Linked DNA regions of Homo sapiens. The protein of the gene in region 2 interacts with the protein of the main gene of each other region in a pairwise test. Each region holds a gene or a part of one and is shown on either strand. Other genes may lie near its edges. The genes, in order: SH2D2A, LRRFIP1 and SERPINB5.

Region 1 (4,276 bases), on a different chromosome or scaffold from region 2:
AAGCAAAAAAACAGTACACAATTTTTTAAAAAACAGTAAGTCTTGGCAAGTCCATCTCCCCCATCTGACATCTTGAAACAAAGTTTTTTTTTTCCTCTCTGGGTTCTCAGTACCAAGAACAGTGCATAGCACATAGTCATGAACCTTTGGCCTAAATCACAGTGAAATTAGTGAAAGGAAGTCTACCTTCTAGTCCCAGCACTCACACCAACTTCTCAGACACTGAAAGACCCTGGCCAAGGCACTCCTCTGAGCTTCTGGTAAATGGGGATAATGTTCCTGTCCCCTTCTTAGTTTGTGAAGATAAATTCAGAGAGAAATGGGATTGGTCCTTTGGTATGGTGGGAAGTCTAAGCACATTGAAAGTTTAAGACATTAACACTGGCCAGTGCAGTGGCTCACGCCTGTAATCCCAACACTTTGGGAGGCCGAGGTGGGTGGATCACTTGACGCCAGGAGTTCAAGACCAGCCTGGCCAACACGGTGAAACCCTGTCTCTACTAAAAATACAAAAATTAGCCAGGCATGGTGGTACAAGCCTGTAATCCCAGCTACTCGGGAGGCTGAGGCACAAGAATCCCTTGAACCTGGGAGGCGGAAGTTGCAGTGAGCTGAGATTGTGCCACTGCAGTCCAGCCTGGGTGACAGAGCTAGACTCTGTCTCAAAAAAAAAAAAAAAAAAGATGTCAACACTGATGTTATTAATGACAACTGCTGATAGTGTTGATACTAATGATGACCTGCTTAGCTGGAGGAATTCTCTTTCCTTCCTCCAATATTGCCTGGTTTTGCCCTAACTCAGCTCCATTATCTGCTGAATGATGGAAGCCAGGCCCCCTCCTCTCTAACCCCTTGTCTTATAGATTTCTTTATTATTATTACTATTATTATTATTATTTTAAAAATAGTGATGGGCTCTCACTATGTTACCCAGGGCTGATCATGAACTCCTGGGCTCAAGCGATTCTCTCGCCTGAGCCTCCCAAAGTACTGGGATTACAAGCATGAGCCACCATGCCCAGACTCATAGATTTCACATGTCCTCAAAAAGTCCTTCCAGAAGTCTGACCCACATCCTTCCTGTTGCAGCCCTGCCCCCTCCCTTCCTCATGTCTCCTCAAAGCATGATCCATAAGCACCTTGTGTGGCTTATCCTTGAGGTTGACATCCCCATTCCCACTGCTCAGAACAGGCCAAGAGGCAGAGTGGGAGATTTTCCAGAGAGAAAGAAATAGAAGCCAAGAGAGATGAGAGAGAGAGAGAGAGAGAGAGAGAGAAAGGGAAGTTCTAGTTTGGGGTGAGGGGGCAGAGAAAGAATCTGGAGGGATGAAGGTCAGGCAGCAGTAAGGGCTTCCTAACACCTAAACACAGAGTGACACAGATACCCCCCACCGCTATACCACCGCTATCTACAGCTGCGTGGCTTCCGGGGGTGGGACAATCGTCTTAAGGCTTTCCATGACGTGAGTCCTCGCCAGAACTAAGGCTGTGGGTAAGGCGACATTTCCTGCCCCCGGGGCCAGGGTGAGAGGAGAGATGATGAGTTGCTGAGTGTGCACACCTTTCCGGAACACATACACACACCCTGCTCTGGGATCCCTTGTGAGGCTGCCCTCATGGAGTTCCCCCTGGCCCAGATATGTCCCCAAGGTAAGTGTGAAGTTGAAGGATATGGGTGGGAGGGGGCACAAAGACCCCCATCCCCCTGCCCTCCCTCCTGGGCTTGAGCTCCCACTTCAGGGATGAGGGGCCCCACCCTAAGCCAGAGCTGGCAAAGCTGATTGGCAGGGTGACCACAACCCTGCCTGGGGCTCCATGCCCACTCATCCCTGAGGATAAAGGTGACAGGGTTTGTTGAGGGCTTCTCAGAGAGGAGAGAGGAGGGAGCAGGAGGATGAAGGGAGAAGGAGGCAGAAGATCCTGGACCAGAAGAAGGGCCTGCCCTGAAGTGATCTGCCTCCCTGACCATCCGAAGGCCAGCCTGACTCCCAGCCTCTCCTTCTAGGCACCTGGTGTCCCTCACAACCTCCTCTGGCAGCATTAGCCCCCCATGCCGCCTTGGCTACTTAACCTCATGCCTGAGAAACTCCCCTGCTGCCCTTCTGCGTTTTTCCTGTCGTTAAGACTGTCCCAGCCCTCCAGATCCCCTGAGCCTGGGAGGAGGGGTGGGAGGCAGAGACAGACATAGTTCCTCTCTGAGAAACCCCGGCAGCCCTCTTTGTGCTCACAGGGAGTCACGAAGCCCCCATCCCAACCTTCAGCACCTTCCAGATCACAGACATGACCCGCAGGAGCTGCCAGAACCTGGGCTACACTGCGGTGAGTGGAAACCTGGGGCGGCAGCGTGGTGCAGCTCCCTCATCTCTCCCACCCTCCCATGGGGAAGGACTTGCAGATGGACAAAGGCCACTCCAAGAGAAGGCAGGAATGATCCGGGTCTGCCAACGGGCTGGGGCACAGAGAGAGAGAACGAAAATGAGGAGTACCTCCTTCATGCGCCGAGTTGCCCACTCACTCCCTTACTGCTCCTAGGCCCTCTGGAAGCTCAGGCTGAGTCCGCAGATGACCAGGGTGCAGTGCATTGAGTCCCAGAAGCAGGCATCTGCACTCTGTGTCAGTGACCATTTGCCCAGTGCATTCCACATTCCCGTCTCAGTCCTTCTCTCCTGCCCAGTCAATAATTTTCCCTGCGAACTAGGTCAGTCCCTCATATTATGAAGTAAGCCCTCCCTCATTCTGGCCTCTAGGGTGACTTCCTGCATCATGTTTCTTCATCCTCCAGGCCAGGGAATGACTCTGTCCATCTGGAAGGCTGTGCTGCCTTTCCCGCCCCTCCTAGAGCACAGTGTGACAGCTCACTGCTGCTGGATTAAAAGCCCTCAGGACCCAGAGGGCAAAGGAAGGAGAGTCTCTGGAAGCCAGAACAGCTGGAGCTGAAGAAGGGATTTAAGTTAGACTTTAGGAAGGACTTTCTGGGCAATTGTACCCTAAAATAGACAGGAGAGGCTGGGTATGAGGAAAAGAAGGTGGCAGGTGGATCAAAGTCAGGAGAAGGCCCACTCATCATGCTGCTTCCCCCTCCTTGAACTCTTCCCTGATCCAGGCATCTCCCCAGGCCCCGGAGGCTGCCTCCAACACAGGGAATGCTGAGAGGGCAGAGGAGGTGCCTGGAGAAGGAAGCCTGTTCCTGCAGGCCGAGACCCGGGCTTGGTTCCAGAAGACCCAGGCCCACTGGCTCCTGCAGCACGGGGCAGCCCCTGCCTGGTTCCATGGCTTCATCACCCGGAGGTGAGTCATGGAGGAGGAAATTGGCCCAGACAGGGGCAGGGCAAGTCCTGGGTCTGGGTCCTGCCACCTGCCAGGAATAGATGAAGGCTCCCACTTCTACCAGTCTGGAGTAGATGGAGGCGCCCACTCCAGGCTCCCACTCCCAGAGTTTTCCTAGCCTTTCACTGAGGCATCTCTCCAGGGGAGATCATTGGAGAGGCTCCAGTCCAGCCCTCTGTGTACCTCAGCTTCCCCTCTCTAGGCCCCATTATCCTCCTGTCCCTAAGGCCTCGAATGCTGGTATTTTCCACCTCTCTCTCCCTCCAGGCTTACTCCATCTTTATCTCCCAGCCCTCTCTTCTTCCACCCTTGCAGAATCTCCCTCCTCCATTTCTCAGCCTCATTTCTCCCTAACTCTTTGTTCACCTCCTCAGTTCAGCTTTGACTTCTGAAATCTGGAAGTCCAACTACTTTCCCATCCCTGTAGCTGCAGTAGCAGCCCCTGCAGGCTGCCCTTTCAGGATGAGGCCAGGGGAGGATGCGGGGGTCTCCTGAATGGGACCCCTGGCCCCTGTCCACGCCTAATCCCTGCAGCGGGAGAGCAGCGCCCACGTGCTCTCTCTCCCCATCTCCGCCCTAGCCTTTCTCTAGCCGCTCCAGCATGCTTGCTTGGGGGTAGGGGTTCCTCGTGAGAGCCGGGGAGACAGAGGCGAGGCTGGAAGTGTCAGAGCAGGGTTCGGCCCCCTCTCTCCGTCACCCACAGGGAGGCAGAGAGGCTGCTGGAGCCCAAGCCTCAGGGGTGCTACTTGGTGCGGTTCAGCGAGAGCGCGGTGACCTTCGTGCTGACTTACAGGTGAGGGGCGAGGCCCCGCGCCGGGCGACACAAGGCGGGGCTCGGGAGGGGCGGGGCTTGGGTCTGATCCCGTGAGGAGCCGGGCTCTTAGCTCATTCCCCGGGCTGCTGAAGGTGGGGATCACGCCTCTCGCTGGTGACCCTGGCCGAGGAGCGG
Region 2 (3,719 bases):
GTATGTTATTTATAAACAAGGAGATCATTACCAGATCATTGAGGGTCTTGTAGCTTGTTTAAGGACTTGGGTTTTACGGAGTGATACAAGACACCCTTGGAAAGTTTTTATCAGAGAAGTGGCATGATCTGACATATTTTAAAAGGACTGCCCAGCCTACTGTGTGGGGAACGGCCTGAGAATATGGGTAAAAACATATATTACTCTGATGAAATAAAAATCAATTTTTTAAAGATGAAAGGATGGAAAAAGAAGATGAGAGATACAGTAAGGCAGAGACAGATATGGGACTCTCTCTCCTGAAATGTCACCCCTGGTGGTTCACAGGTCAGTGGGGGACGACATGTGCCAGGGATAGGAAGAAGGTGGCTTGCCTGCAGGACATAGCCTGAATGGGGTCTTGGAGGGAGCTGAGGGGCTGATCCAGGAAGCAGCCTGGGCCATGAACTGGCAGCCCCTAATTAATAGGTGGCCTCAGCCATGTCCCATGGTGTCTCTGAGTCTGTTTTCTCTCTGTCAAACAGAGAGACTCGGAACTCTTTTCACAGGATTTAAACAAACTATGGGAGTAAAGCTTCCAGAGTACCTGGCACACCTTGGGTCTTAGAAGCAACCTCCATTCGCCCCTCTCTCCTTTCCCGTCTCACACTCACTGGGGACGGGCAGGGCTCACGGGGGACAGGCAGGGCTAGAAGCCAGGTCATGTTCTCCACACACACATCCCAACCCTGAGTACCAGGCCAACGAGTGGCTCAAGAGTCACCCAGAAAAGGAAGAAGGGAGACAGCTGGCCCTCTGACAGAAATAGCTGTGGGGTGGGGCCCAGGGCCGTTGGGGACCAGCAGGCCTGTCCACAGCTGAGTTTTCTGTGGACTCAGAAACCCAGAAGCATCTTTTGGGAATCGCACAAACAGCCCAAGGTCACAGGCACATTGTTCACGCCCTCCAACAGCTCAGACTGTTGGTAAAAATCCGTCTGGAACACCAGTCTTGTCACATTCCTAAAACCTTGTAGACGATCTGCCAAGATGGGTGTTTGGCTTAGGAGAATCAGCTGCAGAACAGCCCTCAGTGACTCCACTGCGGCTGGGTTCCAACTGGAGGCAGGATGTTGTTCAGGCTGGACAGTCCTGTGTCCTGCCGGGCACTGAACGCCCCTCACCTCTCCCAACTCCTGTGGAACAAAGGGGCAGGGCCCAGCCCCAATGGCAAACCAGTGTCCAGCAGCACTCAGTTGGTGTGCAATCTGCTGGCCAGCCTCAGAAAAGCAAATTCATAGAGAAAAAAGTCATGAAATTCACTTTCAAATCAAGTGAAATAGGCCTAGGGACAAGTCTGACATCTTGGTTGCGTGCAGGTGAATTCTGGCCCCAGGGTCACCTCACCAGAGGGCAAGGGACTGCATTGGGGACCCAGATTTGCATCTTTGCAGCTGGGCTCAGTCCTGGACTCTCCACCCCAGAGGAGCCAGGTCAGGTTAGTGCTGGAGAGAGGTAGAGCGAAGTTTCCACACTGAACCCCACTTCTGGGCTGTTCTGGAAAAGAACACGTGCACCCCATCCCCAGCTTGGTTCTCCAACAGCCTTGAGGAGAAGAGAGACAGGCTCCCTCCGCACAGGTTGATATAGGAGGGCTATTTGGGAAGGACAGGGAGAAAAGATGAATGAAAGGGGGACTTAGGATGAAAAGACCCGATATTTACGAACTACCTGAAACAAGGGGCATGGCTTTATGTTGGGTTCCAGAAGCAGAGCCCATGGCAGGACTGGATGTGAGCCCTGTCCCAGCAGGGGCATGAGGGGGGCAGGCCAGTCAGGGAAGGGCTGGGGAGGGAGGTGGTCTCGGCAGGAGTTGGCCTCAGCCTGGCCCGCAGAGAGCTCCGGAGCAGGAAACGTACCACAGAATTGGTTGCATCTTGAAACAAGCCTGGGGGACATTTTGTGACCTCACAAAATGGTTACTTGATGGCTGCAGGCTGCCTTGGGGGCAATGCAACCCCTTCTCCACAACTGGAGTCCTTGGGGGCTGTGTGACCCCTTCTCCACAACTGGACTCCTTGGGGGCAGTGTGACCCCTTCTCCACAACTGGACTCCTTGGGGGCAGTGCGACCCCTTCTCCGCAACTGGACTCCTGTGTGGCCGTGGCTCAAGTGAAAGGCGGTGGCTGTGAGGCCTGAACCAACAGCACCCGCAGGCCCACGAGTCAACTTGGGGCCGGTGAAGCAGCCGGGTGGGGCAGCAGTGCCCCTGCCATGGATCAGGGCCCGAGGCCGCAGGCCACAGAGGGGCCAGCTTGGAGAGGAGGCTGCAGAAACAGTTATGGGGGGAGGGCCTCCGTCCTGCTGGGTGAGGAAGGGGTACCTATGGCACCACCAGGGGATAATAAGCTCACCGCACTGTCTCAAGGCCCCACGGTGAGTTCCTAATGCAGCCTGCGCAAATGACTGTTCCTGTTGGGAAAAACATTCTTCATTTGAGAGCAATACTTTGAATTGCATGGTGAGACCAGTATCGCTTTACTCAGCTGCAGAGTGCTGAATGAGAAGTTTGGGATGCTACCAAAATGCACCAGTAGAATGTGAAATGCGGTAGGAGAGGAAAATCTATCTGCGTTGGAAACACCCCTCCCCAGAAGTGGGAGGCGCAGCTCATGCCTTTGGTGCTAATGAGCTTCTGCAAGTGCGTACTAAACCTTTCTCCTGATAACATCCCGCCTGAATTCCACTGCAACAAGAGAGTGAGAAATAATTGACTTGCGATAATACAGCATTTGCAAATAACTCCCTTTACTATACACGCTTGCCTAGAGTTTAAACCATCACATGGAAGCAGGACACCGGCTGCAGAAGCAGAAATGCACCCTCCAAAGGCTGCCCCCACCACGAGTCCTGCTTCTACCCAGAAGAGTGCAAAGCCCTGCCTGCACAGGGCAGCCTAGCTCTTCCCCTCGCTCCAGCGAACTGGAACCCACGTCCCTGCCAGGTGACTCAGGCTTCCCAATGACCTCAGCCCAGAATTTTCCACTTACTCTCCAGAAGGCATGTTCTTGGGTGCCAGGCCCAAGTGGCAGCCCACTCCCTCCCACTTCCTTGAAGCCTCCCCAGTTTCCATTCAGGCCCCCACCTTCCCAAGTGTTTCAGGGAGGCCGGCTCTCCCCAGTCCCAGGATGAGTCTGACAGGTCACAGGGTAGACCCACCCCCCTTTGCCACAGGCACTGAGCCCCTAAGTCCATGGTCCTTGTCAAAGAGCTTGGTGCAGGAGTGGCCAGACAGACTCATGAAAGTTTACCAGGGAGATACTGCTAGCTCTCTGGAGAGAGCCACCAGAAGAGACGGTGTGTGGGCTCCACAGTGGCAGCCCGGGAAAGCCAAGGCCAGCTGGCCTCCATGAAGCAAGTCAGCCTGAGGATGAGGCCACCCACAGAGGATGGCCCAGCCCAACCAGCTGCGCAGGTGCTGTGGGAAAAAGAGGCCGGAGCCACTGGTGAGGCTGGCGGGGAATCCTGCCCTGCCTCCGGGCTTGCTGTGCTCCAGCCAATATACTTCCCCTTGTCAATGTCAGTCCAGTCAGGGTTTCTGTCCCAGCAGCCAAAGCATCTTGACTGGTACATACAGCCTTCAAGAACTCAAAATGCCACTTCCTCCAGGAAGCCACTTCTGAGACCACTGGCCGGCTGTGATTCTCTCTCATGTCCAAACCTTCAGAACACTGTCTACGC
Region 3 (3,719 bases), on a different chromosome or scaffold from region 2:
GAAAGTCATGGAACATTCTCCCCTGGAGCCTTTTGAGACAGCATGACCCTGCCGACATCGTCATTTCAAAGTACTGGCCTCCAAGCCTGTGGGTGAATAAAGCTTCTGTTGCTTTAAGCTGCCTGGTTTGTGGTGCTTTGTGAGAAGTGCTAGAAAACCCTTAAAGTAACTAATGCCTTTGCAGGACACCCAGCACATAACAATACTTAATAAACAGCAGCGGTTATTGTTTGCGTTTATAATACGCATCTGTGTGTAAGACACTACCCAGAGTGTTACAAGGATCAGTGGACCTCCTCCTTCTCTAAGCTCATAGTCTCTTTGGGCAGATATGCAGACAAATAACTAGAATACAGAGCTGCCCAAGACATGTGAGTGGTATAATAAGTAATATGGGAGTTAAAGAAAAGAGGGAACAGTTTCAAAATATGTAGCCTGGTAAAGTGGATATAGCAGCAACTAGGCATCTTGTCACATCTCAGAGCTCTTTAATTTTAACACAGCAACTTCCAAAGTGTTGTGTCTTGACTCCTGGCAGTCCCTAACACCCTTTCAGGAGGTCCATGAGGTTAAAACTATTCTCATGATAATACTAAGACATTATCATTCTCAATCTCTAATAGACAGCGGAGTTTTCCAGAGGCTATATGACATCCCTTCTATTAAGCCAAATATTAAGGAGATTTGCAAAAATGAAAAACAATATCACTCTTCTCATTACATTTTTTCACTTTAGAAAATGTTTTTTAATATATATATTATTCATATTAGTATTTAATTATTATATTATTTTAATAAATTAGTAAATGAACATTTCAAAATGTGTCTGGTTTTCATTTCTAGTTTGGTAAATAGTGATAGATATAATCTACATTTTTTTTAAAGAAACAGTTCTTTGGGGTCCTCGGTAATTTTTAAGAGTGTAACAGGGTCCTCAGATTTAAAAAGCTTCACTGTTCTAATAAAGGTCTACCTACCTATTTAGTCTGGTAGTTACTGATCGACTCCAAAGACAATTAGGTAAATTCAGGCAGTCAGGGCTTCCCTTTCTGGGAGCAGAGCTGAACTACATGAACTCCTGAGGTTCTGCCTAAGCCAGGACAGCATGTTTCTAAGGGAAATGAATTGATATTACTACCCCGGGGTGAGCAGTACAGGGATTAAACTCGAAGTGTTCCCCCAAAGCCTCAGGCGCACACACACAGACACAAGGGCCGAATGTGACATTGAAGGTCTTCAGGTAGGACATGCACCCTGGCATTAGAAAGTAAGCTCCACTGCTTAAGATAGAGGACTCCCTTTGGCCAGTACCCAAACGTGTGTCAAGAGTCAAAGGCATGATGAATAGGATTGCAATTTGCACCTTATACCTGGACACAAATTCAGAATGCAAAGACGAGAATAAGATGGAGGAGAGGACTCCTGGTCTTTAAACATTTCTTCAGAATTCTCCCTTTTATGGGATATATGGCTTGTGTGTAGGATGGACTTAAATCGATTATATCTCAGAGTCTGAAAAAGCGAGTTCATTATCCAAAAATAATGTTTTATTGACTCTGTTCATGCTCACTGGTCATTTCCATGGGCTTCCTCCTTCTCCATATGTCCCTGATAAGTACAGCCATGCGCTCAGGCCAGTTCCCATTGCAAATATACCACGAGGCCCCCTGAAGTCAGGTGGGCCTCTCACTTTTCTTTAAAGCCCACAACCTTACTCCTTCTCCCCTCAGGGCAGGGGCAAGGGCCTACAGGTGACATCACACCCCAGGGAAAGGTGACTGGCATTAGGTGTATACTGAGGTCAGCAGGGTATACTGAGGCAAAAATGAAAGCCTGTTGAGTGTTTCACCCAGTGTGCCTGCCACTGGGAAAACATAAAGAAACTCTTCACAAAAGGTTTGGGGAATCTGTGGACAGACTTTCAGAATAGGAAACCTGGCTTCCTTCCACAGCACATTTAATATTAGTAATGCCAAGTTCATCTACAAGTAAAACTCAACATGTACAAGAAGTAATGAGTTATTTCTTCACCAAATAGAGAAGCCTAAACCCAGATCCCTGAAAGCTTCTTAACACTTCCACCAGTGGAGAGCTAATCGCACTGATAATAATATGAAAACACACAAACTGCTTTAACAAACACAAGTAGCTCCTCCAAGCACGTATTTATTATCCTCCAAGAGAAACTAGAATAATTTTGCATAGTCAATAACAAACTATACTTTTAGTGATTTCCTTTGTATAGAAAGATGGTGTTTAAGATCTTAATGTGCTGAGGGAGTTTGGCTGCAAACACCTACAAATGGATCTTAGGAGTGGATCAAATGGTGAGGAGATGTTCATTTTACCATTTTATTTCACTAAAGCATTATTCATTCACTTGTCACAACATTTTGAGATACATTTAGTCTAAATGATTGTGGATACAAGATCATTGTGGCTTTTAGTGTAGTTAATTACACAATACAATTAATGCTGTGTTGCAATTCAAGGCTTAGATCCAGGTCCCTGTTGGAGATGTAAATCAGTGCACATCTGACATCCTAACATCTCTGGGGCTTTCTCTCACCATTGGCGGACCTTCCCTTTGAGTGAGTCCCTTCCTTTGCATGCTAATCCTCAGTGCATGAACGCAAAGAGATCTGCCTTCCTGTTCCTATGCTGACTGGCTCCTTTCTCAGAAAATTCTCCTTCATGTCTGGGAAGGTCATACAGCCCTTAGTATCTGGGGTCCCAGTGGCAAGAGCATTGTTTGATGCTGGCTAAAGGAAACAGAAAAGGTCTGTACATGGAAAAGGTTGTAGTTGCAAAAAATCACCCACTAAGTAATCAATCAAATACTGCCCGGTAAATCTGATCAGTGGCTCTGTGATTAGTCCCAAGTGACCTAAAAACACTATAAAGTTGATCTGGTCTGAGGTAGCTCAAAAGATGACTTTGGCCACAGTTGCCACATGACTGTGTTGCAAGACAATCAAAGCATTTAAACAAACCTCAGCAATGTTAACAATACATGACCTGGAAAAAATACAAACTTCCTACACAGACCATTTTGCATGATCAAATGCTATAAAATTGCAAGTACCAGAGTAGAGATTAGCAATTCCTATATAATAAATTTAATGTGCCTAATGACTTCTGTTGAAAGTGCTAAAATTGCTACAAATTTTTTTTCATTCTGTTGCCTTGTCACAAGGGTCTTCTTCCATTTCTGTGAAAACCCTGTAACCATTTTAACAAGGAGAACTTCGTTTATAGTTGCAATGTAGAAAACGCTACATCTTTCAGCACTTAAAAGTTTAAAAGGAACTTTATTTTAACCATAGGAAAGTGAGATAGATGGAAGTTCAAGCAGTAATACAAATGCAGTTTTAAGAACTTATTTCCAAGTACCTTGCTTTCGCAATCTGTGCAAATTATAAACCTTGAAAGTGGGACAAGATCTTGGAGAGGATCTAGGCTGGCCACACCTCTTCATTTTACAGATGAGGAAAATGAGGCAGACAAAGATGAAGTGAGTCTCCCAGGCCACCCACGCAGGGAGTGAGAGTGGCAAAACCAGACCTAGAATTCATTGCTTCTAGCTCCCAGCCTGGCACTTCCCCGCCACACCTGATCACCTGCTTTCTTGTTAATTGCATCTTTGCTGGCATTTGTTCTCTCAGAAGTCTCTCGAGTTCCAAAAATCCTGCATGTCCTGAAGTCTCCCCTTGAAGATA

What was found.
Region 1: the proteins of LRRFIP1 (region 2) and SH2D2A interact in a two-hybrid assay, tested with the Homo sapiens proteins (one large-scale study listed by BioGRID and IntAct).
Region 3: the proteins of LRRFIP1 (region 2) and SERPINB5 interact in a two-hybrid assay, tested with the Homo sapiens proteins (one large-scale study listed by BioGRID).

Annotation. Positions count from the first base shown.
Region 1 is NC_000001.11:156,814,049-156,818,324, reverse strand, and holds the start of SH2D2A (SH2 domain-containing protein 2A), read left to right. Parts: upstream 1-1,476; 5' UTR 1,477-1,616; coding exon 1,617-1,650; intron 1,651-1,867; exon of another isoform or gene 1,868-2,212; coding exon of another isoform or gene 2,213-2,230; coding exon 2,231-2,319; intron 2,320-2,486; coding exon of another isoform or gene 2,487-2,495; exon of another isoform or gene 2,496-2,575; intron 2,576-3,103; coding exon 3,104-3,288; intron 3,289-4,000; coding exon of another isoform or gene 4,001-4,030; coding exon 4,031-4,120; intron 4,121-4,276. UniProt on the Homo sapiens protein: Could be a T-cell-specific adapter protein involved in the control of T-cell activation. May play a role in the CD4-p56-LCK-dependent signal transduction pathway. Could also play an important role in normal and pathological angiogenesis.
Region 2 is NC_000002.12:237,630,515-237,634,233, reverse strand, and holds part of LRRFIP1 (leucine-rich repeat flightless-interacting protein 1), read right to left. Parts: intron 1-3,719.
Region 3 is NC_000018.10:63,479,898-63,483,616, reverse strand, and holds part of SERPINB5 (serpin B5), read right to left. Parts: intron 1-3,719. UniProt on the Homo sapiens protein: Tumor suppressor. It blocks the growth, invasion, and metastatic properties of mammary tumors.